Homo sapiens: one gene and its partners. The protein of the gene in region 3 purifies or fractionates together with the protein of the main gene of each other region. This does not show direct contact. Each region holds a gene or a part of one and is shown on either strand. Other genes may lie near its edges. The genes, in order: RAPH1, FNBP1, DNM3, RPE, ALMS1, TSC22D2 and KIF2C.

Evidence for each region.
Region 1: the proteins of DNM3 (region 3) and RAPH1 purify together in Homo sapiens (affinity purification with mass spectrometry; 3 studies listed by BioGRID and IntAct, with this or other methods). This does not show direct contact.
Region 2: the proteins of DNM3 (region 3) and FNBP1 purify together in Homo sapiens (pull-down; one study listed by IntAct). This does not show direct contact.
Region 4: the proteins of DNM3 (region 3) and RPE fractionate together in Homo sapiens (co-fractionation; one large-scale study listed by BioGRID). This does not show direct contact.
Region 5: the proteins of DNM3 (region 3) and ALMS1 purify together in Homo sapiens (affinity purification with mass spectrometry; 3 studies listed by BioGRID and IntAct, with this or other methods). This does not show direct contact.
Region 6: the proteins of DNM3 (region 3) and TSC22D2 purify together in Homo sapiens (affinity purification with mass spectrometry; one large-scale study listed by BioGRID and IntAct). This does not show direct contact.
Region 7: the proteins of DNM3 (region 3) and KIF2C purify together in Homo sapiens (affinity purification with mass spectrometry; 3 studies listed by BioGRID and IntAct, with this or other methods). This does not show direct contact.

What each region holds. Positions count from the first base shown.
Region 1 is NC_000002.12:203,483,302-203,486,801, forward strand, and holds part of RAPH1 (ras-associated and pleckstrin homology domains-containing protein 1), read right to left. Parts: intron 1-3,500. UniProt on the Homo sapiens protein: Mediator of localized membrane signals. Implicated in the regulation of lamellipodial dynamics. Negatively regulates cell adhesion.
Region 2 is NC_000009.12:129,921,190-129,924,689, reverse strand, and holds part of FNBP1 (formin-binding protein 1), read left to right. Parts: intron 1-663; coding exon 664-846; intron 847-3,500. UniProt on the Homo sapiens protein: May act as a link between RND2 signaling and regulation of the actin cytoskeleton. Required to coordinate membrane tubulation with reorganization of the actin cytoskeleton during the late stage of clathrin-mediated endocytosis.
Region 3 is NC_000001.11:172,383,498-172,386,997, forward strand, and holds part of DNM3 (dynamin-3), read left to right. Parts: intron 1-3,500. UniProt on the Homo sapiens protein: Microtubule-associated force-producing protein involved in producing microtubule bundles and able to bind and hydrolyze GTP. Most probably involved in vesicular trafficking processes, in particular endocytosis.
Region 4 is NC_000002.12:210,001,168-210,005,437, reverse strand, and holds the start of RPE (ribulose-phosphate 3-epimerase), read right to left. Parts: upstream 2,801-4,270; 5' UTR 2,777-2,800; coding exon 2,655-2,776; intron 2,001-2,654; exon of another isoform or gene 1,970-2,000; intron 1-1,969. UniProt on the Homo sapiens protein: Catalyzes the reversible epimerization of D-ribulose 5-phosphate to D-xylulose 5-phosphate.
Region 5 is NC_000002.12:73,448,336-73,451,835, reverse strand, and holds part of ALMS1 (centrosome-associated protein ALMS1), read right to left. Parts: coding exon 1-3,500. UniProt on the Homo sapiens protein: Involved in PCM1-dependent intracellular transport. Required, directly or indirectly, for the localization of NCAPD2 to the proximal ends of centrioles.
Region 6 is NC_000003.12:150,414,798-150,418,297, reverse strand, and holds part of TSC22D2 (TSC22 domain family protein 2), read right to left. Parts: intron 1-3,500. UniProt on the Homo sapiens protein: Reduces the level of nuclear PKM isoform M2 which results in repression of cyclin CCND1 transcription and reduced cell growth.
Region 7 is NC_000001.11:44,749,837-44,753,336, reverse strand, and holds part of KIF2C (kinesin-like protein KIF2C), read right to left. Parts: intron 2,896-3,500; coding exon 2,773-2,895; intron 206-2,772; coding exon 83-205; intron 1-82. UniProt on the Homo sapiens protein: In complex with KIF18B, constitutes the major microtubule plus-end depolymerizing activity in mitotic cells. Regulates the turnover of microtubules at the kinetochore and functions in chromosome segregation during mitosis.

The DNA of each region.
Region 1 (3,500 bases), on a different chromosome or scaffold from region 3:
ATGATATTGGCTTGGTGGCAGTGAAGGCGGTGAGAAGTGATCACATTCTAGACATATTCTGAAGATAAGGCCAACAGAATTTGCTGCTGGATTGAAAGGGAGGTAGAAAGAAAATAAGTAGATAAAGACTCCAAGGAGTTTGCTTGATGAACTAGACGGATGGAATATCCATTATTTGAGATAGAGAAGACAGTGGGAGAAATAAGTTTGAAGAGAAAGAGCAGGACTTTAGGTTTAGACCAGTTAAATTTGAGCAATCTATTTATGATGGTTAATTTTAGGTATCAACTTCATTGGATTAAGGAATACCTAGAGAACTGGTAAAGCATCTGGGTATGTCTGTGAGAGTGTTTCCAGAGGAGATGGTGTGTGAACCAGGACTGAGTGGGGAAGATCCATCCTCATTGTGGGTAGGCACTATCCAATTGACTGAGGGCCCCAGATAGAACAAAAAAGGCAGAGAAAAGGTGATTTCCTCCCTATCCTTCCTAGAGGTGGGACACTCTGCTCCTACTCTTGGATATCAGAACTCCAGGCTCTCCAGTCTTTGTACTGCAGGCCTTATACCAGCAGCCTCCCTTGGGTACCCAGGCCTTCAGCCTAGGACTGATAATTATACCATGGGCTTTCCTGGTTCCGAGGCTTTTTGACTTGGACTAAGTCACACTACCACCATCCTAGGGTCTCCAGCTTGCAGACAGCCTGTCACATGACTTCTCAGCCTTCATAATGGTGTGGGCTAATTTCCATAATAAATCCCCACTCATATCCTATTGGTTCTATCTCTCTGGAGAAATATAATACACAATTAGACATCCAAATAGAGATATTGATTAGAGATGGAATATATGCACCTGGAGTTCAGGAGAGAGGGACTGGCCAAAGATACCTATATTTCCTTAAATCTAAGAAGATTTGATGCTGGTACTTTCTTGATCTTTATTAGAAACTTTCAACAGAAGGACTTCATACAACGTACTATAACTGCCACCTTGCTGATCGTGACTAACAGGTGCCACACGATTTAAAATGTGGTTTCTCAACCTTGGCTCTATTTTGGGCCAGATAATTATCCTTCATGTGGGCTGTCCTGTGCACTGTAGGATGTTTAGCAGCACCTCTGGCCTCTACCCACTAGATGCCAGTAGTAGCACACGCCCTTGATGGACAACCAAAAATGTTGCATATACCCAGCAGGACAAAGTAGCCCAAGTTGTGAAGCATTGTTTTACAGGGATTAAAATGGGGGTGGGAAGATGTGGAAAAAAAGCATATGGCTGAGTGGTAACCAATTTAGCAAATCCAAGAGAAGCTGAATGCTGGGCCAGCACTGGAGAAAAGCAGAGGAGCACTCAATTTATATCGTGTAACCTCAGAAGTCCTCAGAAGCAAGAGTAGACAGGTGATGGTGCGACTAAAAGCAGGAAGAATGGTTGAAAACACATTTAAGAAAGCAGCTAATTCTCAGATTCCCTCTTTTACTCACTCACCCACCAGCAGTGGTCTCAGGTACAGATTAACATTCGCTGACAAGACCCAACAGACCATAGCTTGAAGCCAGATTCACTCAGTTCTGAATAAATAAAAAGAGACATGCCATCTTCTGAGGGAGTCCATACAGCTCACCACAGGCCCTTTTTGGGCCCATAAATAGCTCATTGTAAGGGAAAGAGACCACATGGTAAGTGCAGAAAACACCCTGGCTTAGGGAAACTTCATGCTCCATGGGAACCAGCAGTACCTTTTAACAGCCAATGAGGTTAAGTTCCAGGGCCCCTTAAAGAACACGTTCATGCTCATTTATAAGAGTTACACTGCTGGCCAGGTGCAGTGGCTCCCACAGTGTAATCCCAGCACTTTGGGAGGCCGAGGCAGGTGGATCACTTGAGGTCAGGAGTTCGAGACCAGCCTGGCCAACATGGCGAAACCCTGTCTCCACTAAAAAAAAGAAATACAAAAATTAGCCAGGCGTGGTGGCATGTGCTTGTAATCCCTGCTACTCGGGAGGCTGAGGCATGAGAACCATGTGAACCTGGGAGGCGGAGGTTGCAGTGAGCTGAGATTGCGCCACTGCATTACAGCCTGGACAACAGAGTGAGACTCTGTCTCAAAAAAAAAAAAAAAAAAAAGAGTTACACTGCACACCACGAAGTCAAGGTCTATGTCTTTTCATAGGCTAATTTATTCATTCATGGACAGTCTTCCTGGTCCATATACACTCACCAACAGGGGTCAGTTTCACAATAAACAATATTACCTGGAGATATTCTATATTTAATTCTTAATCCAGTATGTGTCCAGGAAAAGAATGCCAGGAGAAGGAAAACCCAAGGTCATTTTCCACGAAGAAAAGGACTCAGGCCTACTGTTAACCCTCTCTACCTAGAGCAGTGGTGATTCTCAATTGGGGGTGGATTTTGTCCTACAAGCAACATGTAACAATGTCTACGGACGTTTTTAGTTGTCACAACTGAAGAAGGTAAATGTGTACTACTGACATCTAGTGTGTACAGGCCAGGGATGCTGCTAAACATCCTACAGTGCATGGGACAGCCACTCACAAAACTATCTAGCCCAAATGTCAATAGTGCTGATAGCTGAGAAACCCTGACCTAGAAGGATTTGATGAAAGTTCATAGACTGGAACAATGGGGACCATCCTCATGTTCCAACCCTTCTTTCCCAAATGGGCTACTAAAACACTGGCAGCCAGCATAGAAGACTGGAAGAATCTTCTCCAGAGAAGCTCACCAGCCTAGGAAAAAAAACCTAAGGATAATCCTGAAGACTACAAAAAAAAAAAAAAGAAAGAAAAGAAATAAATAGAATTTTAAGAAGATGCAATTAATGGAACGCTAATTTGGCTTGAACCAGAGAGATTTAATCAACTGGGAGAAAGTCTGAAGTTGAAACAGTGATCACCATATAGAAAATTAAATATTTTTAAACATATATTCATTCCAGTAAAAGTAAAATGATATTCCAGAAAGGGGATGTAGTCACAAGAGTATATGGAGGTTAGCAGTAAATTTCAAGTATATAGTCATTTTAATATAAACACTGAATATGAGCTCAATCAAAATATATTTGGAGAATGGAAAAACAGGAAGGGAGAAGTGAGAAGAAGCTGTATATAGACAGCTATACCCTCCATCTTCTGGAGTAGAGTGAGAAGTCAATAGGTAATACATACCACTAAAAAGAAAATCAAGAAATGGCAATGTGTATGTAGACTTAATGATAAAGAGGTAAAGTCCCTAAGAATCAGCTAAATGAGCAAAAATTGCTTACCTCTGGAAGCAGAATATGATGTGTATGTGAGTAGAGGATAGTTTTCCGTAACATATCTCATAGAACTATTTAACGCCATGCATGAAAAACTAAAATATTTTTAAAACTGTATTTGCACTTAAAGACAATTTGATACATGAGTTCAGGATATATTAAGCTTGCCTCAGTTTACTTTATTTGAATCAGAACAGACTAGACCTAGGAAAAAA
Region 2 (3,500 bases), on a different chromosome or scaffold from region 3:
CCTTCCTCTCCTAGACTGCTGGTTACCTTGGCTGGGAGAGAGGATGTAGTGGGACATTCCTGTAACACTTTATCCGCACATCTACTGGAAATCGTTACCATGTTAATAACTTGGTTTTGAATTCATGTTAACATGTGTACCCATGAACATTTTTCATTTTCTTTTCATAGTGCGATACATAGGTGCATGACAGCATTAACCTGGGGACGTAGAATATGATCAAGGCAGCATTACTGCTTTAACTTTAGAATGACTTACTATTTATTAATTTAAACAGACTGCTGTTTCCACAACCTTAGCATTGAAGGTCTTTCATTTTCTCCCATCAAGCTATGTTAGTTTAGGTAATGTAGAAATATTTACCCTCTGGCTTAAGCTGGTTTAGAGTAACTAACTAGAGCTATAGTTTGCATGGGAAAGTCTGCACGAGCTTCTTGTCAGATATTTCTTGCTCTTCTGTCGCATTACTTACTAAACCTCCCAACTCTCATCATATTCTTCATTTAACCACCTCCTACATGTTTTCTTTTGGACCATGGCCTAAAATTTAATTGTTTGTGTTTTACTTGCGTTGGATTTCAAATATTATTTGATGCTTATTTTTGTTTTGTGTCTTCTTGTTTCTGATTTTTACTCTGTCACGGCTCCATCTCTTACATGTAGCTTATGTCCCTTTTAACATCCCCCCATCAGCCTCCCCCTCCCCCTCCTGCCTCTGCCTCACCCTCTGCTGTTCCCAACGGCCCCCAGTCTCCCAAGCAGCAAAAGGAACCCCTCTCCCATCGCTTCAACGAGTTCATGACCTCCAAACCCAAAATCCACTGCTTCAGGAGCCTAAAGCGTGGGGTAAGTTCTGCTCCGGAATCCTGTCTCTCTGGCGTGCTTTGGTTGCATGTTTGGTTCTGCATAACTAATTTTGTTTGTGAATGAATCCATTGTGTTTTCCCATAACATATAAAAAAGTTAAAAAAAAAAAAACAAAAACCATTATAGCTAGAAAGAAAAGCCAGAAAGAGGAAGAAAGAAAGAAGGAAGCATGGTGGTTGGAAGAAAGGAGAAAACCAGACAGCCCAGAGTTCTTTCTATTTGTTTCTTTCTTTTTTTTTTTTTTCCAGACAGAGTCTCGCTCTGTCACCAGGCTGGAGTGCAGTGGCGTGATCTCGGCTCCCTGCAACCTCCACCTCCCGGGTTTAAGCGATTCTCCTGCCTCGGCCTCCTGATTAGCTGTGATTACAGGCATATGCCACCACGCCCAGCTACTTTTTATATTTTTAGTAGAGACAGCATTTCATCATGTTGGCCAGGATGGTCTCGATCTCTTGACCTTGTGATCCGCCCGCCTCGGCCTTACAAAGTGCTGGGATTACAGGTGTGAGCCACTGCGCCCGGCCTTTTTCTTTTCGTTTCTAGTACATTTTGGAAGGACTTTACCCCTCTTCCTCTTTAAAGCATCCAAGTCATGCATTTTCTACCTTAATTTTACCAAAAAAAACCACTTAGATTTCATTTCTAAAACTAGCGACCTGAGACTGGGCGTGATAGTTCACATCTGTAATCCTAGCACTTTAGGAGGCCAAGGCAGGAGGATTGCTTGAGCTCAGGAGTTCAAAACCAGCTTGGACACCATAGTGAGACCCCCATCTCTTAAAAAAATATATAAAAATTAATAGGACAAGCGCAGTGTCTCATGCCTGTAATCCTGGCACTTTGGAAGGCCGAGGCAGGAAGATTACTTGAGCTCAGGAGTTCAAGACCAGCCAGTACAACATAGTCAAACCCCATCTCTAAAAAAAAATAATAAATAATAAAAACATAAAACTAGCAACCTATGAGATGAGGAATTGGAAGTCACTGTGTAAGTCAGAAAATATTGCCTTAATAACTACTGAAGCAATGTGAGTGTAATGAAGATACTTGCCTGAGCTATGCCTCAGGGTCGAAAGGAGAAGAGTCATAAGTCACAGTGGTTTCATTCGCTATTTTAGTGAGATTATATAAGATGTTGATAAAATATCTGTTGATTGGAAGGGGCCTGATGCAGAATTTCTCTTTAAAGGATGAAACAATAAAAGCAGCTGACACTTACTGAGCACTTATTGTGTGCAAAGCTCTGTTCTGTGTGCTCATTTACTTTTTTCCAGCCACCCTATGAAGCCCAGGTAGTACTCATATTTCCTTATTTTACTGTAAGGAAATTGAGGCATAAAAAGGTGAAGGTGGGAAGATACAGAGCCGGGATTTAGATCCGGGGAGTCTGATTACAGAGTCTGAGATTCTGTGACATCCACATTCAGGGAGAAACTACTATATTGACTCGTAAGTGGTTGTTATTAAGATTGAAGTCCGCTGTCCTCATTAAGATTGATGTGCGCTTACATCATAGAGATAATGGAATTGATGCAGCCATCCAATGTAGATACCAGTTTCGTTTACAGAGAAAGATTGGCATAAAGCAATGTGTAGATTCCCAAATCATTCTCAATGGCCAGTCTAGTCTAAGCCTTCCCAAAATATCTTTTATAATGAATATAATGAGTAAACAGATCTTTAGACTGGGCCCAGTGGCCCACGCCTGTAATCCCAGCAGCGTTAACATATCCAGTAAGGTTTTCTCCTTTTTTTTTTTTTTAAATCCTACCCTGTGGGAGTTGCAATACAGTTGTAGTGGAATGCTTTCTTGTACAAACATAAGTTTTACTTTTCCCTTCTCCTGGACTCTCCAGTCAACTGACGGTTGGGTTACTTCTTTCCAAATAGTACCTGGTAGTGCCCCAAAGCCAGAGGTGGATGCCATCCTTTCTTGAGTGTCAACTGACACATTGGCCTGGGAAAAGATTCTAAACTACAACTAATTAACTAGAGGAGAGATGTCCTTCTTAGACTTGGAATCAACAGCTGGTTACTAGTAAAAGAATAACAGTAGTCATTGTTAACCTGACAATCGTATTTCCACAAAAACAACTCTGTGTAAAAAAGAGGCCTGGCACAGTGGCTCATGCCCGTAATCCCAGCACTTTGGGAGGCCGAGGAGGGCGGATCACCTGAGGTCAGGAGTTCGAGACCAGCCTGACCAACATGGTGAAACCCCGTCTGTACTAAAAATACAAAAATTAGCCGGGCATGGTTAATGTCCGGCTAATTACAGGCGGGTGCCTGTAATCCCAGCTACTCGGGAAACTGAGGCAGGAGAATCGCTTGGACCTGGGAAGTGGAGGTTGCAGTGAGCCAAGATCACGCTATTGCACTCCAGCCTGGACGACAGAGCAAGACTCTGTCTCAAAAAAGAAAAAAAAAAAACCCATGAAAAAATAGCCAGGCATGGTGGCATGTGCCTGTAGTCCTAGCGGAGGCTGGGATGAGAGGATTGCTGGAGCCCAGCCAGGGCAACAGAGTGAGACCCTTTCTCCAAAAAAAAAAAAAGTAAAGAATGTAAATTCATAATTGATAACAAGTTTATTATCAATGCTTTTTAAAAATAGGGGACAAAACAATATTTCCTC
Region 3 (3,500 bases):
TTTTAATACATGTATTGTGTGAATGAGAGGCATCACCGTGTTCCGTACTGTGACCCTCCAATTCTAGAAACAAAGAGATTTTAAGGAAATGGTCTCCTTGGTAACTGAACTGTAGGAAACTGTAGGAAAACCCTAGAAATGTCTCTTCTATTTGTGAAGGGTTTAAAATGGTCTCAGTCATAGAAAAGAAGGTTTAAGATCCAAACATATTACGGGTTGCTAGAGAAGGGTTAAAGTAAGAGAGGAAAACATGTGGAACATTTTTAATGACCTCACATTCCTTTACACTGAGCAGAGCGACATGGTGCAGTAATGCCTGTTTATCTAGCCTAGAGAGTTTGAGCTGGAATGAGGTTTCATGTGTGAGAACTTTTACAAACCATACAGAGATGTATAGGTTATAAGGTGTTATAATTAAAAACATAAATATTATTTCAGATCTCAAATTTAAGTATAATCACTTTGTTATGTTAGGTGAAGTATTTTCTAAATGCTATCATCTAAAAGGGATTCACTTGACCCCTGATTGTCATGCAGAATTCTTGATTTAAATATTTGTACCAGATTTAAATGTCTGTATACCACTGGCATACAGACTTCCCAGAAAGTCCCTGAAGTGTCTGGAAACTCCCGGAAGTCCCCCTACCTTCATTCCAAACTCCAATTTTAGTGTCACAAAGCTAGGTTAGCAGAAGGAGAGAAGAGTATCTCTAAAATTTTGCTTAAATGCAAAATAAAAAATGTTAACCTCTATGCCCTATTTAACTATGTCGCTTGATACCTGTACTGTTGCAACAGCTGTCTATTGTTCTCCTGTCTCGATGTACCTAATGCCAATGTAGCCTATAGACAGTAAAAATCACAGCATTTTTTGGAAGGGGCACTAACTGTGTGCTGGGCATCATGCTAGACAACTTGTATTCATTCCTTCCTTTAATCCTCACAATACTTGAGGTAGCTCTACCCTCATTTCACAGATGAGGAACCTGAGACTCAAACAGTTTACATTATTTGCCCAAGAACAGTAAGTGTTAGAACTAGAACTTAAATCCACAGCCTATGCTCTGAATCCACTGTATTGCACAGTAGGCAAGTTCCAGTGTGTCATAATTGCTGTGGAAGATTCAAGGCACATCTTTGGTCAGAATGCTGAAACAGGCCCTTATTTTGCTTCATGGTTTGACAGTTGATTCTTAATTCAGCTCTGCTTTAAATCTATTCTTGGAAGAATCTTCTTTTAAATTGTATTTAATAGATTCTAAGTGATATTCCAGTAATATGTAAAGTTTCTAAAGAGCTTAACCCAACCAATGGTCAATGCCAGGAAAATTGTCTGGTTTTGAGTTTTGAATTGCACCATGCATCCAACTGCATATACATACCCAACAGTGGGAGATTTGTGCAAATATCCATGATTCCCTGCATACCTGCAAGTACATTTAGAAGTGAATGCGTCTGTAAGGAAGGGAATGAAATATTCCTAAAGCCAAATTTGCTGCCTTCCCTCTAAATCTGACTTTCTTTTCTGATGTTTGAGTTTCTATTCTCCTACTCATCCAAATGTCAATGCTTGAGATGTCTTTGGTTGTTCCTTTCTTCCTTGCCCTTCACATCCCAACAGCACCAAGTTCAGTTCATTATTCCCTTATAATGTCATTGTATGTATCCATTTTTTATACTACTGCGTTATTAAATGAAACATTTACCATCTTATGAACGATCTACAATAGCCTTCTAACAGATTTCTTTATTTTCACTACCACCCTTGCAAAGTCTTTTTCAATGTTAGCCAGATTAATTTTCCTAAAACTCTCTTTTATTGTTTCACTTACTTGCTTAAACGCTTTCGCTGGCCCCTCATTGCCAAGCAAATAAAGTTCAAACACTTTTCCTTGGCATTCAAGGCCTTCGCATCTGCCTCAGGATTCCTGGCCAAACTTACCTTCCACAACTATCGTGCATAAACCTCTACTCCACAGAGGGTTTCCTAAATACATCTTGTGTATTAGATTACTTTCACCTTTGAATCACTCTTGGTTTACAAAATATGTACAGAAAACACTTTATTTCACCACAATAAACCTTTGATTTAGCTGAATTTTTTGATTAGTAGAATTATTTACATGTTTTGATGCCTTTAAAACATAATGAAGCTATGTGTTTTAGGTTCTTGTCATCTCTGAATTACAAATTTAACCATATCCTAGAAATTTGGAGCATCTGACAGCTGTTCTGTTATCTGCCTGATTTTTTAACAATTAAATATATACTTGCGTTTGGCCTTTCTTAAAGATATTCATGAGTCTAGATAAGAGTTAGCTTTCTCATGTAACAGAGAAACTGAAAAATTCAAACGGCTTATTTTTACTAGGCTTAAGTTAATTGCTGCACTACTGTAAAATAATGATACTTAAACAAAAATTTACTTTTTTAAGCACTCAATCACAGTGAGATAATGGGGTAAGGGAATGGGCACCGGACTTCAAGTCAGAAGGTTATGGATTCAACTGAATGCTGTGTGACCTAGCACAAGATACTTAAATTCTTGGAACTTGTTTCTGTATCTATAAAACTGGAATACTAATACATGTTTCTTCAGTGTGTGATAAGAATTGTCATATAACTTATGAAGCCACTTGGTATATACCATACTTCATCGATTCTCACATTCACTTCTTTTTATTTAATATTTCTGAAATGAAGATGCATCTTATACTCAATGGCATCTTGACATCCTGTCAAAGTTTGATTGATGGTATTTTTTTTTTGTCTGAATAGTCAGCACATATGATAGTAGTGTTTCTTAAAATCACTGGTGTCTTAGAGTTGATGAGATACAGTAGCTGGCGTTCCCACTCTCAGTGTTGTGCACCATATTCATCCTCTCCATTTTCATCCTGCAACAAAATGCCCCTCCCCCTGAGACTCCCACATAGTGTTCATACTTTAGTTTGTTTTTATATATTAGCTAACTATGCAACCTCATGTCAGTCCCCATCACTGTTAACTAACTTCTATTGTAAACTTCTGGAAAACAGAGTGCATCTCTTTCACTTGTTTATAAATCAACCTGCATAGTTATATAAGATTCTGTATTTAATAAATATTCACTTACTGGTGCTAATTTCACTTTTGAGACGACACTGAAACTTGGCATCTCAATAATTTTCCAGTGATTTTGGTAAAAGCTAGGGAAAGGACTGCGAATGCCAAGGAATGGAAAACGTGTGATTACATAGGTTTCTTCACATCACTGTTTTCTGTTGAAAATACTGCTTCTTACCTCATAGTACCTTCCCTCTTCTATAAGCCAAACAGCTCCAGACAATATTGTGAAATGCTCACAAAGCCAGCAGGCCCTGTTCTGGTGATGGCTGGGTTTGGCCTTCTTCTACTCATCTCTATCATCCTTCAGTGTGGACAGCCAAAAGACAGAGGGAAACTGTTACTGTCACCAGTACTGGGGATAGAGACAAAACAAAAGTAAACAGACGCTTGGT
Region 4 (4,270 bases), on a different chromosome or scaffold from region 3:
ATATCCAGTCATGCTAGTGCTCCACCTTCCACAGTATTCCCCAGACTGGTTTCTGACTTTCTAAATGAAGAAATTCAGTTGTAATCAGGGGAGAAATTGGAGGTCTTAGTGGGGAGGAGACTAGAAAACAATAAGCACATCCAAAGTGTAATGTTGGATGAGATTTTTAAAAGGGGCCAGGAAAAAAAAAACACGAAGGCAGTCCTGGGAGGGAAGGGACATTGTGGCTGGCCACATTTCAAAAAGGAGTCCACAGCCCACTTTCATAGCCCTAGCCTAGTAGACACCACAGCACATCACGTAGGGGCACTGGCACCAACTCTGCCAGGCTCTGCTGAATCTGGTGAGACATCAGGGAAGAAGCTGAATCTCCCTACACTGGTTTCCTCCTTTGCAAAAGGGGAATAGAAACAGCTCTTAACTCAGAAAGTAGAGAAGATTAAAAGGGAAATAATTTTAAAATTGTGTATGCAGAATTCAGTTTTTCCAAACCAAAGTATCTCCTGGCAAAGGGGAAGAGGAATCAATAAAAAACAAATACTTCATTTTTTATTTTTTTGTTCCCAAAACTCTGATCCATGGTAAATACTTTGCCTTACTGAGCTCAGTCTGCCATAGAGCTGCAAGGGGACAAAAGTGACTTCTGAGAGACTTCTCCTATTATGATTAAGCTATTCATTCATTCGGCCAACAATAACTAAGCACCTTATGGTGCTTTTCCAGCAAAGAATATATAGGTGAGCAAAAAGAAGATAAACTTGGCTTTCAGGAAGCTTATAGGGTAGCAGGAGAGACATGAAATAAGTTAACAAAAATAAGTATACAGTTAACAGAAATAAATACACAAATTATTAGTTGCTTTTTTGAGGCCAAACAATGTCTTAGTCATTCCCTGTAAGCCTAGGAACCACAGAAAGCATTTCATTTGAGACAACACAAGCTGTTGCATTGCTTCCAACCCTGGCTCCACCATTTCCTAGTTATGAGACCACTGGCAGATGACTTAACCTCTCTGTGCCCAATTCCTCGCTGTCAAATGCTGGTGGTAATAACACCACCAATTTCAAACGGTTGTTTGAGTTAATTCACAAAAAAACTCCAGAACAGAAACAGTCAAGTGCTCATAAACATTGCTACTATGGTTATCATTAATAATCCTGACTGGTGAACCGAAACAATTACTTTCCCCAACCATTAACTTACTCAAACATAGTTTAATTAAAACCAAATTGCTCAAATAGACTCACAAATATACACATAGCTGTTCCATCCTGTGACCCTCTAGGTATTTTCTCAGGCACAAAAATGTAGCTACTTACCTTTGAGGTAGACACTCAGGGTATTATTACCTGTGACAGTTTAGGGCTTTCAAGCAAAGATGTCAAAAATAAAGTATATAAGTATAATTACATATAATGGCCAATTAAAAGCCAACCTTTGTGAGAGGTAATATTTACTAAACTTTTTACACATTTGGCCTATTATTTTTAGTACTCTATGGTCAAAGTTTTGTCATTATCAGTTGGGTGGACTCCTAAGGTAACTGGGTAAAATGCCAAAGAGAAACAATACATTTAACCACATAGAGCAATGGAAGATAAAACTCTTCAAAGCCAGATTAACATTAAAAAGAAAAGGAAATCATCACCTTTAGAAAATAACACCAATTTGCAAACTGAATGAGGGAACACAGGGTTTTTACCTATTTAAAATAAATTTATTTTTCCATCCCCACTCAAGATAATGGTATTTATGATTTTTATAGTCAGTTAACAGTGGGGCTCAGAGAACTACTTGGCAAACCTAGGAAGAGCCAAGTTGCAAGTCTGTCACAATCTTCTGTAATCTTGAGGGAGTCTTACTGCTTTCTCTGGGGTTGTTTCCTCATTCTGTAACCAACTTCAGAAACTAATATCCTGACTCCAAACAATATTATGTGCTGTAACTACGGTGCTTAAAAATTACTTACAAAAAACTGACCTCCCTGAAGAGCAGGGTGCCTGAAGAGAAAATAGACAGGAAAATCAGAATTGTAATAATGATGTAATTAACAATTATAGAGAACTTAATATACGCCAGGCACTGTAAACTTCTCATGTACTCGCTCATTTCATCTTCCAAGATGCCTAAGCGGTAGGTTCTGTTAGTAGTTCCATTTTTCAAATTATGAAACTGAAGCTCAATGAGGTTAGTGGCTTGTCCAAGGTAACCCAGCAAGTGGCAGAACTCGGGAACCTAACCGCAGGTGCCAACTTAAATCGTTAGAGAAGTCTGTTTCCCCAGCTTTGCCACTAACTAGCTATATGAGCTTGGGCAAGTCATGCTTCTCCCCTTGGGCCTCAGTTTCTCTAGCTGAAAGTGAAGAAATGTCCTAAAGATTTAGGTCGCTTCCGGGTCCTAAGTGATGGAAGACCACACGTTACGTGGGGGGAGGGGAGGAACTGAGGTTTGGGACCCGGCCGCAACCCAGGATACCGCGTCGGTTCTGCTCCTGCTAGAGCCTCCAGGGCTCCTACCCCACACCCCTTCTAGCATCGCGTTCAGAGTGAGGCGCTCGGTGGTACAGGGACGCGGTACATCCAACAAGCAGTCAATAAAGGTGCACTGATCCGCCCCGCCGCGCGGCAAGCCCGACCGGAGCCCGGAGGAGTTACCCGTCCATTACGTCCAGGTGCAGATAATCGGCCCCAGAGTCTAGCATCCGGAGGCACTCGGCCCCTAAATTGGCCAGGTCGCTGTTGAGGATGGACGGGCCAATCTTGCAGCCCGACGCCATACCGCTGGCTCCCAAAAGCAAGTTACCCACGAGTCCCCGGCAAGGCTAGAGCGTCACCCCGATTGGGCGCGCAGTTTTGGCCCCGCCCCTTCTCCGTACAGGCTTCCGGATTCTACCGGAAGCAGCCACTCTGCGGTGAGGAAGTCCCGCCTCCTCCTGGGGTGGGGCGCTGTCAGCCGTCCGCCTGGGGCGGGGCGGGGCACACGGGCCTCGTACACCTGATTTTGACCTTCCTTCTTGTGCTGTTTGGATCTTAACGTCCTCGCAGTACTCAAGGCGTTTCTTAACCTTTTTTCACTTTGCTTCTCCTGCAGTTCCCTCTCCTCGGCTCTTGACTTAACATCACTTTTTGTTTCTCCACCCTTTGCATATGCCTTTCTTTCCTCTCCAGCGCCTATGCTGGCCCTTTAAAACAACAATTAAAAACCTTTCTTCCTCGTATTTCTCCTAGAGCTCTTCTTTTGAGCTGGAGGAACCCTGGCTCTGCCAGATACTAGCTGGGTGACCTGGCAAATCACTTCTTAACTTCGGTTTTCTCATCTGTAAAGACAGTGCCCAGCTTTAGGGTTGTATTAAATGAGTGAAGCCAGGTAATGCGCCCAGCAGGATGCCTGGTGCTCAGTACAAAATGGTAGTTATTATTATATTACCCTCTTTTTCTGCCTTTGCAGTTCCTCCTTACCTTTTTTGTTTTTCCCTCTGTTGAGGCTCAGAAAATGATAGCCCAAAGTGAAGGCCTCAGACGCAACAGTGTTTCTCTGACTTCCTGCCCTGCTCTCTTCTCAGTCTCATTCTAGGAGGCAGGTCATAGAAACTGGAGCCCATCTTCCCTAAGAAGAGTCATTGAAACCGGAACCCCCTTTCCCTGAAGCCAGACACAAAACCCAAAAGCATTACTCTAACTTTCCTCCACCTTTCTGTGTAAAAACTGGCCATAAATTATTTGACCCATCTCAACTGTAGGTTATAAAACTCCTCTTCTAGAGAAGGTTCTATCCCATATCCAGGAGGAGGGAATGCTGCACAGAGAGGCCAGGAATCTAAACTAGACTGGCCAAGGCCAGGTCAGTCTATTAGCATTAGATCGCCTATTTTGTCCAATCGTATTTCTACATGGCTGTCTATACTTTGTTGAACCTAAGTATAAAAATGGGTAATCACCCCTGTACCTTTGGGTCTTCATTCTGAAGGCTCCTGTGTCAGGTAAAACTATAATCAAATAAGTTTTTATGCCTTTTCTCCTGTTAATCTTCTTTCTGTCAGTGATTTTCAGCAAACCTTTGGAGGGTGAAGGGAAAGTTTTCCCTTGGCCCCTACACCTCTCCAATGCTCATTCACAAATTGTGATAGGTTTGTGTGCTGTTCACACACAGTTCAGAAATGGATGAGTATCCTGATGCTAAATGTGCCTAGGGTCAGGAAAAGAGACAGAAGTAAAACCACTTGGCGGGGATAAATGGACTTAGCAAGAGCAATCCTTAAGGGGTCAGAATA
Region 5 (3,500 bases), on a different chromosome or scaffold from region 3:
GGTAAGAAATATTAGGCTTCTCTGTATGTGAATAGAAAGAGGAAGTTACAGTAGATAACCCAGTCTTCTGGTCAGCTGGTTGAGGAACAGCTGAAACTTTCAGAGCTTCTTGAGTTAGCTCACTGTCTGGCAGGGCCTGTTGGTAGAAGACAATGGGCTTCTCTCTATATGAGTATAAACTAGAGGATACTGATGGTGTCTCAGTCTTCTGGGCATCTGGTCCAGGAACAGGTGGAACTTTCAGAGCTTCTTCAGGTAAATGACTGTCTGATAGGGTCTGCTGGTAGAAAATGACAGGCTTCCCCCTATTTGAGTAGCTAGTAGAATGTACTGGTAATGTCTCAGTCTTCTGGTCAGCTGGTCCAGGAGCAGCTGAAACTTTCACAACCTCTTTATTTAGAGGACTGTCTAGCAGAGCCTGCCGGTAGAAAGTAATGGGCTTCTCTCCAAGTGCACTGGAACCTAAAGGTCCTGCTGGTATGTCAGTCTTTTTTTCAGTAGGTCCAGAAACAATGGAAACTTTCAGAGCCTCTTCAGGTAGATGACCATCTGGAAAGGCCTGTTTGTAGTTAACAATCGGCTTCTCTCCAAATGAGTAGGAAGTAGAGGTTATGGTTGGTATGCCAGTTGTCTGGTCAGCTGGTCCAGGAGCAGAAGAAACTCTGAGAGCCTCTTCAGGTATTTGACTACCTAGCAATGCCAGTTGGTAGAAACTGCCAGACTTTGCTCTATGTTGTGAGTAGGAAGGAGAGGTTATAGTTGGTGCGCCAGTTGTCTGGCCAACTGGTCCAGGAGCAACTGAAACTTTCAGAGACTCTTCAGGTAGATGACCCTCTGGAAAGGCCTGTTTGTAGATAACAATGGGCTTCTCTCCAAATGAGCTGGAAGGGGAGGTTACAGTTGGTGTGCCAATCGTCTGGTCAACTGGTCCAGGAGCAACTGAAACTTCCAAAGCCTCTTCAGGTAGATGACTATGTGGCAAGACCTGTTGGTAGAAACTACCAGGCTTCTCTGTGTGTGAGTAGAAAGTAGAGGGTAAAGTTGGTATCCCAGTCTTCCGGTCACCTGGTCCAGGAACCGCTGAAACGTTCTTAGCCTCTTCAGTTAGATGACTACCTGGCAACGACTGTTGGTAGAAAATACTCGGCTTCTCTGTATGTTGTGAGTAAGAAGTAGAGGTTACAGTTGGTGTGCCAGTTGTCTGGTCAACTGGTTCAGAGGCAACTGAAATTTTCAGAGCCTCTTCAGTTGGATGACTATGTGGCAAGACCTGTTGGTAGAAAACACCAGGCTTCTCTGTGTGTGAGTAGAAAGTAGAGGGTAAAATTGGTATCACAGTCTTCTGGTCAGCTGGTCCAGGAACCGCTGAAACATTCTTAGCCTCTTCAGTTAGATGACTACTTGGCAACGACTGTTGGTAGAAAATGCTGGGCTTCTCTCTATATTGTGAGTAGGAAGTAGAGGTTACAGCTGGTGTGCCAGTTGTCTGGTCAACTGGTTCAGAGGCAACTGAAATTTTCAGAGCCTCTTCAGTTGGATGATTATCTGGCAAGACCTGTTGGTAGAAAATACCAGGCTTCTCTGTGTGTGAGTAAGAAGCAGAGGTTGGAGTTGGTGTCCCAGTCTTCTGGTCAGCTGGTCCAAGAACAGGTGAAACTTTCTGTGCCTCTTCAGGTATGTGACTACCTGGCAAGGTCTGTTGATAGAAAATACCAGGTTTCTCTCTTTGTGAGTAGAAGGTAGAAAGTACTCTTGGTATCCAAGTCTTCTGGTTACCTGGTCCAGTAACAGCTGAAACTTTCTGAGCCTCTTCAGGTATATGAGTACCTGGCAAGGCCTGCTGGTGGAAAATGCTGGGCTTTTCTCTATGTTGTGAGTAGGAAGTTGAGGTTACAGTTGGTGTGCCAGTCTTCTGGTCTGCTAGTCCAGGAGCTACTGAAATTTTCAGAGCCTCTTTAGGCAGATGACTCTCTGGCAAGGTCTGTTGGTAGAAAATACCAGGCTTCTCTCTTTGTGAGTAGAAAGTAGACGGTACTGCTGGTGTGTCAGTCATCTGGTCAGCTGGTCCAGGGAAGGCTGAAACTTTCAGACTCTCTTCAGGTAGATGACTGTCTGATAACACCTGTGGGTACAAAACACTAGGCTTCTCCCTCTGTGGGTAAGAACTAGACTGTACTGCTGGTATCTCAGTCTTCTGGTCAGCTGGTCCAGGGCCAGTTGAAACTTTCAGAGCCTTTTCAGTTGCATAACTATCTGGCCACTCCTGTTGATAGAAAATACTGGGCTTCTCTCTATGTGAGAAGGAACCTGAAGGTACTGTTGGTGTTGGGACAGTCTTCTGGTCAGTCAGTCCAGGAATAGCAGACATTTTCAGAGATTCTCTAGGTAGATCACTGTCTGGCAACTCTTGCTGGTAGAAAACACTAGATTTCTCGCTATGTGAGTGAGAATTAGAGGACACTGTTGGTGTCCCAGTCTTCTGGGCAGCCAATACAGAAACAGCTGAAACCTTCAGAGCTTCTTCAGGGAAAAGAAAGTCTGGCAGGGTCTGCTGGGAAAAAATAATGGGCTTCTCTCTGTGTGAGTAGAAACTAGATGGTGCTGAGGGTATCCCAGTCTTCTGATCACCTGGTCCAGGAACAATTGATACTTTCAGAGCCTCTTCAGTTAGATGACTATTGGGTAAGGTCTGCTGATAGAAAGCACTGGGCTTTTCTCCAAGTGAAGAGGACGCAGAGGAAGTAGAGGTTACAGCTGGTGTCCCAGTCTTTCCGTCAGCTGGTCCAGAAACAGCTGAAACTTTCAGAGCCTCTTCGGGTAGATGGCTGTCCAGCAAGGCCTGTTGGTAGAAAACAAGGAGCTTCTCTCTGTGTGAGTATGCACTAGAGGGTACTGTTGGTAGGCCAGTCTTCTGGTCAGCTGGTCCAGCAACAGCTGAAACTTTCAGACCCTCTTCAGGTAGATGACTGTCTGCTAAGTCCTGTGGGTACAAAATACTAGGCTTTTCTCTTTGTGAGTAAGAACTAGACTGTACTGCTGGTATCTCAGTCTTCTGGTCAGCTGGTCCAGGAGTGGCTGAAACTTTAGTAAGAGTCTCTTCAGTTTGATGACTGTCTGCGAACTCTTGTTGGTAAAAAATACCAGGCTTCTCTCTATGTGAGTGGGGAGTAGAGAGTACTGTTGCTGTCCCAGTCTTCTGGTCAGCTGGTCCAGACACAGCTGAGACTTTCAGAGCCTGATCAGTTAGATGACCATCTGGCAAGGTCTGTCGATAGAAAAAGAGGAGGTCCTCTACATGTGAGTGGGATGTAGAGGATACTGTAGGTATTCCCGTCTTCTGCTCCACTGGGCCAGGAGCAGCTGAAACTTCCAAAGGCTCTTCGGTTAAGTTACTCTCTGGTAACTCTTGTTGGTAAAAAGTACCAGGCTTCTCTCTATGTGAGTAGGAAGTAGAGGTTAGAGTTGACATGCCAGTTGTCTGGTCAGCTAGTCCAGGAGCA
Region 6 (3,500 bases), on a different chromosome or scaffold from region 3:
AAAGTATACATCTGATCATCATTTTCATGATGATGAAAATGCCTGAGATCTAGGAGGGCAGCATAGTCTCATATTTGTATTCCAGTGCTCACTACTCACAGAGCATCATGAAAGCTGAATGACTGATAAGCTGTTTTAAATGTTTTCTTGGGCAATCAACCTACTTAATGAGTATTTACAAACTTCATTTATTGCCACACAATAGTCAAGTGGCAGGAAAGGGGTAAAAAGAAGAAAGTTTAAGTTTGCAGTTCTCTCATGAAGCACACTTGAATGTATGGTCTCATATACATAAGGCTAGAAGGAATCTTAAAATTTGACAAAGTCTCAAAAAAGAAAAACAGACAAGTGAAATGACTTGACCAAAGAAACCAGCTAAATGATAGAAGAGCCAGGACTGGAACACAATTCCCTATACTTCTTACAACATCATGACTCGTCTAGACTAAAACATCATCTCCTTTTTTCTGACTACATCCATACCATACAATTACGCTTTCATATTAAAATGGAAGATTCTTGGTATGATTTATAACATGTAAAGGGGTGATCTGGGAGAGCAGTTTGGACACTGAAATATTAACATTTCTGTGATACACGTTTGCCACATATATTATGTTACAGACTGTTCAAATTACTTGCACACATCATTTAATTCCTTAAAACTCTCCCAGGTAGGTACAATCCCCATTTTTCATAAGAGGAAACAAGGCATCTACACCAACTAGCTCAAAGTCAAATGTAGCAGTTAGATTTTAGCCCGGGTATGTCTGACTCTACTGTCTCTGTAATGGTCATTCACATATGTTAACACATAATTAAACACGCTATTGGTTTTATTTGATCAAAACAGCTCCTCCCTCCTTTGTTTTGTCTTCAAAGACTAGGTAGACGGTATGCCAAGCAAAGATTTGTTTTGCTTTAACATATAAAACCACTTGATAAAAACTAAATACTAACTCTACTTTAGAAACTAGAGGCTTTACACTTACCTTTGGGAATCCTTTATTCAGATTAAATTATATACTTGTGTAATAAGATGAACAGCCTAAAACTAACATTTAAAACTATGCCATCATTATTTACAATAATTGACACATTAATCACAAACTCCATCTTCTACAAAGCAATATTCTTTAGACAAATTTTAGGAAAGGCTTATGGGAAAAGAAGCTTTAAGTAATTTAACATTTAGACTTTACTTATTTGTCCTGCCTACCCTAATAATAGGTATATGTCCCAGGCAAACACTAATAAAATTAACTCAGTTACCTGCAGAACTTTCACTAACATCACAAATAAATGTACTACTTAAAAGGATGGAAGCACTTTTTCTTTTTAAACAAAAATTAGCTTGGGTACAAAGGAATCAAACTAAATACTAAATACTAATTATTTAAGTCTGATTTGAGGCTTTAAATTTGAGATAAGCAATCCAGATGAAATTTAATTCACCTGATTTAAGAGCAGAAATCATGCAATACTTTCATACAGGAAACAATCCATCAATATACCTTTAATATTATTAAACCAAATCTGAAGAGTATACCTCAAAGTATACTTCCTAAAGTCATGGAATAATGTATAGGAATGGTGCAAACTGGCTACTGTTCCTACCTTTTTATGAGGGACACCCAGTTTTTGCCCTAAGCAATGCCAGATTAAGAATATAACAAATATCGAGTAATTTGATATGTTCAAGAATTGCTGTGGGAAAGACATTATACCAATGATTCAGGTATACATATTCTCTGTGGACTCAATACAATACCATCGAAAACAGTAGCCTCAAATCACAAGCCCACTGGTTTAGTATAAAGAAAAACCATACACTTAAATAATTTATTCTAATTTAGGAGTTTTGCTACACATACTCCTTAAATATGATTAATATTTCTTACCAAAAATCTGCTTTTCCAATTTAAGGAATTACTTACGGAATATCATTCAGGCTATGTTTAACCAGACAGACCTGCTTTTGTAAGGCCTCTCCTTCCTCATACTTTAAGTATTTAACGAGTAATGCAATTAAGAAATAAACAGAATCTTCAGAAAAGGAAATACACACTGGACTAAAACAATTCTTCAAAGAAAGAATTAGAACACCATTCCTCAGTATTCACAAGTGTTCCTATTTCTTTTGAGACTATATTTCATGCCACTCCACTGTACTTTCTTCCATTTTGATTATCTGCTATCATTCTACACTTCCCCTTCCCCAACTCCTGCCATTTTAGGAAAGGAAGGTCAGATTCCTTTTATACTTTCCTAACTACCATTCCTTTATTAGGAAACAGATTTATTTGGGTTTCTCTACTACTTGATTGGTGGGGCTGCTATTTGTTCATAACTGCTTCTGATCTTTTCTGGTGCAGAGAAAGATAGACTCCCATTCCTAATTAGGAAGTACCAGATTCATAGATCCAGTACCATATTTCACTATTTCCAAATTAGTGCTATCAGAATTATTTTTTTTCTTTTTACAGACAGGTCCTTGCTGTGTGGCCCAGGCTTCAGTGCAATATTATAATATAGCTCACTGTAGCCTCCAGCTCCTGGGCTCAAGCAATCCTCCTCCTACAGCCTCCCCAAGTAGCTAAGACTATAGGTGTTGGCCTCCAGACCTGGCTAATTTTTAAATGTTTTGTAGAGACAAAGCCTCGCTATGTTGCCCAGGCTGGTCTCCAACTCCTGGCATCAAGCAATCCTCTGACCTTGGTCTCTCAAAGTGCCAGGATTACAAGGCATGAGCTACCGCTCCTGGCCCAGGATTCTTAAATAACAAATGAATTGGCATTATATTTATTCTCAGGAAGTAGAGGACATATATACCCCTACCACCAGTCCTATATAAAATGACTTCTCATAAAGGTGATTTAGTTCAGGGGTTGTGATCTCCTAAAAAGAAAAAACAAGTGTTACTAAAATAGTCAGCTGGAAATCTGTATTATTCACACACATATAAGCCATCATGTTTTCTAAAAAAATTTACCAATGTTTGGCCTATATGATTTAGTGCACATAAAATTTTATACAGTATGTGTCACTGTGAATATAAAAGGCCACACTCCTACAGATATAGCTCATGGTTTAGGAATTTCGGGTAGTTTGGAAAATCGTAAGCCTTTTTGGAAATCTGTCATTTCTTTTATTTCAAGCCACGTTTATGAATAAAGTATGTTTTAGTAATCCATGTGGTATCCATCAGTAATCCCTGATGAATACATCAGTATCAGTTTTTATGCTAAACAATAATGACACATATATACGAATTTACATTTTTACTACTAACTCCTCAGTAAGAACACTCTTAAACGTGTAGATAGGCATAGGATAGTATCTAGTATGTGATTCAGACATCAACTGTAAACCTACAAGAGCAAAATTACCTTCACAATTTAACAGATAAATGTCAGCTTCCAAGAAACAGAGATTCAAGTAAGAAATTTCCATCTTTAGAGACTTCAATTCAGTGAGACTTTCATACAACAGAGGTCGAA
Region 7 (3,500 bases), about 130 Mb from region 3:
CAAGGTAGGCCAGGTTTAGGACAGGATGTAAACTATCTGTGCCTCACTAGAAGCAGAACAGCAGACAGCTCAGTGTGTCTACCTGAGTTCACAGGGTTTGCAGAAGAGCTGCCTCGGATGGAATGGACTTGCTCTTCCATCTCCTCGCTGACCATCCTCAATGGTATTTCAGCCACTGCAGGGCAGGAAGGCCTAGTGGGGGCAGCTGTAGGGGAACAAGAGTCACTGGAGAAGCAGGCAAGTATACCACAGGCATCTCACCTGAGCCCATGGCCCTGGTTATGGGCCGGGAGAGCGACCTGCCTGCTCGGTAAGGCTTACAGTATGTGCAGAGCTTGTGCTTTTCCCTTCACCTCAGCCCACACTCTCACCCTTTCTGCAAGGGCTGGCTCCTGGGGTCAAAATATCTTAAAGGGTATGTGAACAGTTCAGTATGGGCTTTGACATGAAGGGAAAAGCCTCTGAGAGCGTGAACTCTTTAGACTTCACCCAAGCATGGGTTCTCAGGCCAGGCCAGGTCTGGTCTTAGGGAGAAAAGCCAGGCCTTTCTGACTTCTCTCAAGCCTCAGGAACCCAGGTGGTTAACAGGAGCAAAGACTGAAAATCTAGGGTGACAGGGAACTGGGGCAATAACTAACCAGATTGATTCAATACAGAAAGGTCCAATCCACAACACCTCATTACTTCCCATACGTGGTCATGACCCATTCATTTACCTTCATCGTATTAGAGCTGAATTTGATATATGTAAAGTATAATGGTTGTGTGTCTTACACAATTTGCATCTAATTTATATAATCTATTAAAGACTGACAAATAATTCACATTACAAATTTTTATTTATATTTACTAATTTTCCACACCTCATCTGACTCACTTAAAAAATCTTAAAATTCAATTTATAGCCGGGCACGGTGGCTCACGCCTGTAATCCCAGCACTTTGGGAGGCCGAGGCGGGCGGATCACGAAGTCAGGAGATCGAGACCATCCTGGCTAACAGAGTGAAACCCCGTCTCTACTAAAAATACAAAAAATTAGCCGGGCGCGGTGGCAGGCGGCTGTAGTCCCAGCTACTTGCAGGCTGAGGGAGAATGGCATGAACCCGGGAGGCAGAGCTTGCAGTGAGCCGAGATCGCAGCACTGCACTCCAGCCTGGGCGACAGAGCGAGACTCTGTCTCAAAAAAAAAAAAAAAAAAAAAAATTCAATTTAATATAGGCCGGGCGCAGTGGCTCAAGCCTGTAATCCCAGGACCTTGGGAGGCCGAGGTGGGTGGATCACGAGGTCAGGAGTTTGAGATCAGCCTGGCCAATATGGTGAAACCCTGTCTCTACTAAAAATACAAAAATTAGCCAGGTGTGGTGGTGTGCACCTGTAGTCCTAGCTACTCGGGAGGCTGAGCCAAGAGAATGGCTTGAACAGGGGAGGCAGAGGTTGCAGTGAGCTGAGATCACACCACAGCACTCCAGCCTGGGCGACACAGCGAGACTCCATCTCAAAAAAAAAAAAAAAAAAGGTATAAAAAGAGGGCCGGGTGCAGTAGCTCACGCCTGTAATCCCAGAACTTTTGAGAGGCCAAGGCGGGCAGATCACATGAGGTCAGGAGTTCGAGACCAGCCTGACCAACATGGAGAAACCCCATCTCTACTAAAAAGACAAAATTAGCCTGGCATGGTAGCACATGCCTGTAATCTCACCTACTCGGGAGGCTGAGGCAGAAGAATCAATTGAACCCGGGAGGCAGAGATTGAGGTTAGCCAAGATAGCGTCATTGCCCTCCAGCCTGGGCAACAAGAGCAAAATTCCGTCTCAAAAAAAAAAAAAAAAAAGTACAAAAAGAGGGCTGGGCGAGGTGGCTCACGCCTGTAATCCCAGAACTTTGGGAAGCCGAGGTGGGCGGATCACTTGAGGCCAGGAGTTCAAGACCAGCCTGGCCAACATGGCGATACCCCACCCCTACTAAAAATACAAAAATTAGCCGGGCGTGGTGGCACATGCCTGTAATCCCAGCTACCCAGGAGGCTGAGGTGGGAGAACTGGTTGAACCTAGGAGGCGGAAGTTGCAGTAAGCCAAGACCACGCCATTGCACTCCAGCCTGGGTGACAAGAGTGAGACTCTGTCTCAATAAATAAATAAATAAATAAATAATAAAATACAGAAAGAAAAAAAGCTAATTAATGCTATTAGAAGTCAGGATTATGGGTACCCTTGGGGGAATTAGGAGCTGCAAATATGCCCAACAGGGACTTTTGAAGTTCTGTTAATGCTCTGATCATGTTAGTTACATGAGTGTGTTCTGTTTATGAAAATTCACTGAACTATATACTCAATGCTCTGTGTACTTAGACCTTAGACTCCTCAACTATCTCAGAGGGCTTCTGCCTAGTCTTTCACCTCTTCCAAAAGACTGATTCCATGGCCACAGGAAAACATGCCCCCATGTGACAAACAGGGCTTGAACTCAGGCGATTTGAAGTACTGGTAATGCTCTGATCATGTTAGTTACATAAGTGTGTTCAGTTTACAAAAATTCACAGAACTAAATACTCAATGCTATGTGTTCATGTCTGTGTTTATGTGTGTGTAATGTTTCAATTAAGTTTTTTTAAAAAAGAGATGATTTCCAAATAAGAAAGCCGTGTTGGTAGGGCAGGAGCAGACCAGTTCTGAAGCTGGGGGAATGGATGAATCTCAGGATATTCTAGCACAGGGACCAAGCAATGTGCTCCAGGGCCTCAAACATGGTGGTTGGGGGCACATTCGTTACTCACGAGGAACTGAAAACTGCTTGCGGGAGTTTGCAGCTGCAGGCAGCTCCACCTCCATGTCATTCTCCTGAGCCGTGATGCGAAGCTCTGAGACAGTGGACATGCGAGTGGAGCGGCTTCGAAGACCTGGAGAACCGAGAGCAGTAGCCAGTCAGTGCTGCACGATCTCGAGGGTGGTCAGGGGCAAACCTCCAAGTTTCTGTACAAGGTGAAATAGGTCCCAGCTACCAGGAAAGGGGCTCGCCAACTTCCCATATTCCTTAGAAAGGAAAAATTAGAAAGACCAAGTACCAGTAACCCCAAAACCTCTTTGTCCACATTGTGCAAATCTAGGAGCTCCTGAGGGCAAGGATATCTCCCACAAAGAGCGGCTGTCTTGAGTAAGTACAGGAACCTATAGCTATCCTGAAAACATTTCTGGAGAGAGAGAGACCTAATCTAAGTCCTTGAGAAAAAGTATTATGAATCTTTTTTTTTTTTTTTTTTTTGAGGAGTTTCGCTCTTGTTGCCCAGGCTGGTGTGCAGTGGCGCGATCTCGGCTCACTGCAACCTCCACCTCCTGGGTTCAAGCAATTCTCCTGCCTCAGCCTCCCAAGTAGCTGGAACTACAGGTGTGCACCACCAGACCCAGCTAATTTTTGTATTTTTTTTTTAGTACAGACGGGGTTTCACCATGTTGGCCAGCATGGTCTCAATCTCTTGACCTTGTGATCCACCCGCCTCGGCCTCCC